2 separate regions of the Homo sapiens genome follow, and region 2 is linked to region 1. The links come from fine-mapping of genetic effects on gene expression. A gene starts in region 1. The other region holds a variant in brackets. All regions are shown on one strand. Distances are between the middles of the regions.

The links. PIP is the estimated chance that this variant, and not a neighbour inherited with it, causes the effect.
Region 2: its variant is fine-mapped to the expression of LYAR in subcutaneous fat (GTEx, PIP 0.98).

What each region holds. Positions count from the first base shown.
Region 1 is chr4:4,288,963-4,291,875 of GRCh38, forward strand. It overlaps LYAR (Ly1 antibody reactive), which reads right to left and starts at 1,192. Exons shown (of 10, transcript NM_017816.3): 1 at 1,074-1,192. ZBTB49 (zinc finger and BTB domain containing 49) reads left to right here and starts at 1,289. Exons shown (of 8, transcript NM_145291.4): 1 at 1,289-1,390. RefSeq lists an enhancer at 1-217.
Region 2 is chr4:4,255,811-4,258,723 of GRCh38, forward strand. No RefSeq gene overlaps it. Among named protein-coding and RNA genes, the nearest start is that of TMEM128, 9.0 kb to the left of the region's middle. RefSeq lists an enhancer at 1,230-1,730. The variant C/T (reference allele first, on the strand shown) is at 1,350.

The DNA.
Region 1 (2,913 bases):
CTGTGAAACAAGAAGTCAGGCCAACTTGACAAGACTCAAGCCCCTTCCACGGGTAGCATTCTGAGAAACCATGGGTATGGTGCAAGAGAAGGACAGACAAACATACTCTGTCCACCATCCTGCCTAAACCTTTGTGTATGAGGCTGACAAGGGTTACAATGGGTGACATTCACAAGGAGAGAATCTCTCCCTTGTTCCTTGCAAAAGCCCTGGGAAGTAGGTGCACCTATCTCCACTAAACAGATGAGCAAACTGAGGCACAGAAGCCATTTCTCTCTGCCTCCTACCCCACCCACGGCATCACCAGCACTGTTTTAAACACCATCCCTTCACTCGAGTAACTACCATGTGTCAGGCACTATGCTAGACCCTGGGAGCCTCGGGCACAGTGTGAGTAAGTCCCAAGTGGGCCCTCTCTGCTAGAAATCAGGGTTGCAAATACAGACCCCACCTCATCCTCCTCCCTCTCTCCTCAGAGGTAGGTGCTTCAGAGAATCCTAACATTCATGGAGCACCCAAGCCCTCTCATAGGAGGTTAACACATTTCTACTCATGTAATCCTCATCACAGTTCTCCGAGTTAGATTCTATATGTTATGACAGATGAGGAAAGTGAGGCGCAAAGAGGTTAAAAAACTTACACCAGGTCATCCCACATCCAGGTAGTGGCAACCCAGATTCACACGCAGTAGTTATTCTGATCCTAAGTATGTGCTCTGGACCGCTACATCCTAAGGCCTCCTCTTTAGGGACTGATCTCCCAAGGCTCAGAGAAGAGCCCTGTCTCCAACATGCAGCAAGCCTGAAGCCCAGTCGGGCGGTGACCAATCGTCCTGGTTTGGCCAGGCCCGAGGGAGTTCCCAGGACGCCGGACCTTAAGTTTTAAAACTAAAACGAGTTGGTCACCCTAAGTCCAGGACTCCTGCCACTTCCCCAGAGCAGGAGTGAGATCTGAATGGAACTCCTTCCTCCATGCGTAACCCAGAGGGGCTGACGGTGGAAATCCCGTCCCTCCCCTACTCACTCTCTGAGCCCCAGCCTCCCAGGTCGGACCTCTGGGCCACCACCCCTCACCTCTCAGCCAGCGCCCGCCAACGGTTTCAACCGGCCGCGGGGAGCACGTGGACTCGCCGCCGCCAGCCCAGCGCCGCAGCTACCTGCCTCTCAGGCTTCGCGGTGCAGAATTCGCTTCTGAACCACCCAGCGCGCCTGCGCACCGCGGCCACGCCCCCCCCAGTGGAAGTGACGCCAACGGAAGCAGGAAGGCGGTTCCGGCAAGCCAAGGGGGCGTTGTCGTGATGATTCCGCGGCCAGCGGATCGCTGCGAGTGGCCTTGAAGGCAGCTGCTGCAGGTGAAGAGTAGGCGGCGGGGCAGAGAGCGGCCTCCGAGGGTAAGGTGGCCGGCCTTGCGAAGGCGTGCGGGGCTGGCGCTGGTGGGAATGGCCCGGAAGGGAAGGGAGGCCGGGCGCCCGAAGGTGGCCCAGAAGGGCATGGACCCACCGCTCCTTCCCGTCTCTGGGCACTCGAGGATACCCGGGGGGTTGGCGGCTCCTGCGAGAGTCAGCGAGCATTTGCTCTGTGCCGGGCATCACAGGGGACGCGGACTGAGACCCAGACGGCCAGGTTCCGGGCCTGGGAGCCGGGCCTTCTCCCTGGTGCAGCTTCCTCGGCCTGGAAACCCCACCCGCGCCCTCTCATCTCCAGGCTTTGCCCGCTGGAAGCCAGCCCGGCCCGCCTCCGCTACGCGCTGCCCATCTCTCGGCTTCTGTTTCCTTCCACGCTGTAGTTGAGAGTAGCGCTTAAGACGACAGAGCCCACAGCCTAGCTCAGTTTCATTACGGTGTGGCCTCTTTGTGCCTCAGCCCCGCATCTGTAAAGCGAATGTCATAGCGGCACCTGCGTCCCTGGAACCTTGTCGTATTTCATGAGTTGGTGCATGTAAATCGCTTAGACTAGTGGCTGCCACTTAGTAAGTACTCAATAAACGTTAGCTCTTCTCAGCCCTTAAAACAGGGTCTGGCACACAGTGGTGGTCACTAGGTGTTTGTTGCTTAAATGAATGAATGAAAGTTGAGTGGAGGATGCACAGAGTATTGTGAGAAACCTTCACTCCCAAGGTGTGTGTATATGGGTGATAAGGTTTCACTCTGAAAGTGAGCAGTGTTGGGCCTGGAATAGAAGGTGTATTAGTTTGCTAGGACTGCAAACAAAATACTGGGTGGCTTAAACAACAGAAATTTATTATTTTCTCACAGTTCTGGAGGTTAGAAGTCCAAGATCAAGGTGTCTTCAGGTTTGGTTTCTTCTGAGACATTTCTCCTTGGCTTGCACGTGGCTGCTTTCTTGCTGTGTCCTCGCATGGTCTTTCCTCTGTGTTTTCACATCTCTGGCGTCTCTCTTTGCATCCAGATTTCCTCTTTATGAGAACGTCAGTCAGGTTGTATTAGGGCCCACCTTAATGGCCTCATTTTAACTTAATTACCTTCTTACAAGCCTGATCTCCAAATACAATCACATTCTGGAGTGCTGGGGGAACAGTTTAACCATAACAGAAGGAATTCACAGAAATGGACAAGGAGGGAAATACTTTCCAACAGAAGTGACAGAATGGCCAGGAGGCTTAAAAGCAGGGTGCTCAAGATGTTTTTTGTGTTCAGGGCACATATGTGTACTTCAGTCTTGTTTGTGCTCTCGTACTGTTTTTGGGTTTGGTTGTTGTTGTTTGTTTGTTTGTCCTCCTGAATACTCAAAGAAAGTGAGCCCTCTCATTTTTTTAGTCTGGCAAACTTAACTCACATTTCAGCATAGATGTGTCTTCCAGGAAGTTTTCCCTGACCCTCCCTCCCAAATTAATTTCTGCTTCCTCCATTTAATAACTTTGGTACAGGGCTGGGTGCGGTGGCTCACGCCTGTA
Region 2 (2,913 bases), 33 kb before region 1:
AAAAGCTTAATGATACATGTAAAGGGCTTATTACTATGCCTGGCATATAGGAAGTACCCATGAAAGGGAACAATTCATATTAAAGTGGAATCCAGGCAGTGGGGAAAGGCTGCCCACGAAGGCCTCATGGTCACTCCCAGGGGAGCAGCAGCAGGTCATTGCAACGCGGCCTTGAAGGGGTGAGGCTGGTGGCCATGCCAGGAGAAAGAGGGCAGGAAGCAGTGGAAGAAAGGATGACTGTGGTGCAAACTGGCCATCATTTACCATGCCCCTCACGTGTTAACTACGCCATCCTCACAGCAGCTGGATGAGGCAGTTACTGTTATAATTCCTATTTCATACATGAGAAAATGGAGGCACCAGCCTTTTTTGTTATGAGATTCAAAGGAGCTTCTTTCAAGTATTCCTTTGCTATGAATGATTAAACTCTCCGTTTGGTAGTTTAATTACAATTACTGAGAAAATACCTACTTTGTCGGAGTTCAAAAGTCAGCCATCCCTCAGGTCTTTGCTCCGTAGGCTCAAAGCTAGGAAAGTGGGGGAGCTAGGATACTAACCCAAGCTTTCGGCTGCCAGGCTAAACTGCGTCTCATGACTCAAAGCACCTCAGGACATAAGCTATTTGTCAGTGTCAGAAGCCGGGTGTGGTGGCTCACACCTGTTATCATGGCACTTTGGGAGGCCGAGGTGGGCAGATCACCTGAGGTCAGGAGTTTGAGACCAGCCTGGCCAACATGGTGAAACCCCATCTCTACTAAAAATACAAAAATTAGCCAGGTGTGCTGGTGCACACCTGTAGTCCCAGCTACTCTGGAGGCTGAGGCAGGAGAATCGCTTGAACCTGGGAAGCGGAGGTTGCAGTGAGCCGAGATCGTACCACTGCACTCCAGCCTGGGCAACAGAGCTAGACTCCACCTCACAGAAAAGAAAGAAAGTCAGTGTCAGCTTCCAACCCAAGCTGGGGTCCGAGGGGAGTAGGTGGACCGGTGGCGGGTAGCTGAAAGAACACTCGAGGGATCTTATACAGGTGGGATATGGCTTTATTCTCTGTGTCAGCCTTTGTCTTGGCTGCCTGCTCAGCAGCCCCACTCAGTGCCAGCTCCACAGTCTGCAGCTGCACTCCCCAGTGTGCTCACCATTTCCTGGCTCCACCCACCCACCCCCACCTGCAAGGCAGCCAACTCCATTATGCATGCCTTCTCACAGTGTTCGTGATACATTTGTGCGCTTCACAGACAATAGCGGCTCAGAGCCAGGGGATGAGCCCACCCATAACATGGTTACATAACTGATTATATGCTGCACGGGATTGTGCACCTGCACTCCAATCCCACTGCGTCATGCTGCAC[C/T]GGATATTTACCTCGGCCCACTCTTGATGGCAGCGCAGCCATTTCCTTTTCCCTTCCCTGGGGCCATTCTTGCTGAATGCTGGCTCCATGGTGCTGGCCATCTCCATAGATGAGAAGCCAGGAGGGAAGATGTGGCAACCTGGGTGCCCCTTTCCACCCAGACCCGTGGCAGATGTTGCTGATCAAATGCAGCATTTATTTCCCTTTGACAGCCAGGTGGAAGCCTCAAAATCCTGAAGAGCACCGGAAAATCACTGCCAGTTGACTAGAGTTAGTTGTAGTGTCAGATAGAATCTATTTGCCATCCCTTGCTTGAGGGCTTAGGACATGCCCAATAATAGTACAGAAATTCAATAAGGTATTCGCCAACTGAGGGTCACTTTTATGCCAGTAAGAATCTGCATGTCATCCCCTTGAGAGACTCCACACCTCCTCATCAAGAAGTAGTGAAAATGACATCCGGGTGTGATTTCTCACAAAAGAGAAAGGAACGAAAGAAATTTTTTTTAATGTAAAAAGGAAAATCATACCATTTGACCCAGCAATCCCATTACTGGGTATATACTCAGGAATATAAATCATTGTATTATAAAGATACATGCACACATATGTTCATTGCAGCATTATTCAAAATAGCAAAGACTTGGAACCAACCCAAATGCCCATCAATGATAGACTGGAAAAAGAAAATGTGGTACATATACACCATGGAATACTATGCAGCCATCAAAAGGAACAAGAGAATATCCTCTGCAGGGACATGGATGAAGCTGAAAGCCATTATCCTCAGCAAACTAATGCAGAAACAGAAAACCAAACACCACATGTTCTCACTTACAAGTGGAAGCCGAACAATGAGAACACACGGACACAGAGAGGGGAACAACACACACTGGGGCCTACTGGAGGGCAGCGGTGGGGTTGGGGAGAACATTAGGGAAAGGAGCTAATGCATGCTGGGCTTCATACTTAGGTGATGGGATGATCTGTGCAGCAAACCACATGGCACATGTTTACCTATGCAACAAACGTACACATCCTGCACATGTACCCCAGAACGTATAAAAATAATTAAAAAAAAGAAAATCACAAACGTCAATGTGCAAACACATGTTTGAACACAGCGTATGAGGAAATCCCTCTGCCAACCTTAGAAAAATCAAAGTGTTGCCAGGAGCAGTGGCTCACGCCTGTAATCCCAGCACTTTGGGAGGCCAAGGCAGGTGGATCACCTGAGGTCAGGAGTTCGAGACCAGCCTGAACAACATGGAGAACCCCATCTCTACTAAAAATACAAAATTAGCCGGGCATGGTGGTGCATGCCGGTAATCCCAGCTACTCAGGAGCCTGAGGCAGAAGAACTGCTTGAACCCGGGAGGCAGGGGTTGTGGCTAGCCGAGACCGCGCCATTGCACTCCAGCCTCGGCAACAAGAGCAAAACTCTTTCTCAAAAAAAAAAGAAAGAAAGAAAGAAAGAAAGAAAGAAAAGAATAGACAAAGGAGAGAAACTGTCAGCCTTTCAAGACTGGCAACCGTGAGCAGAATGCCCAGCTGTGAGGGAAAG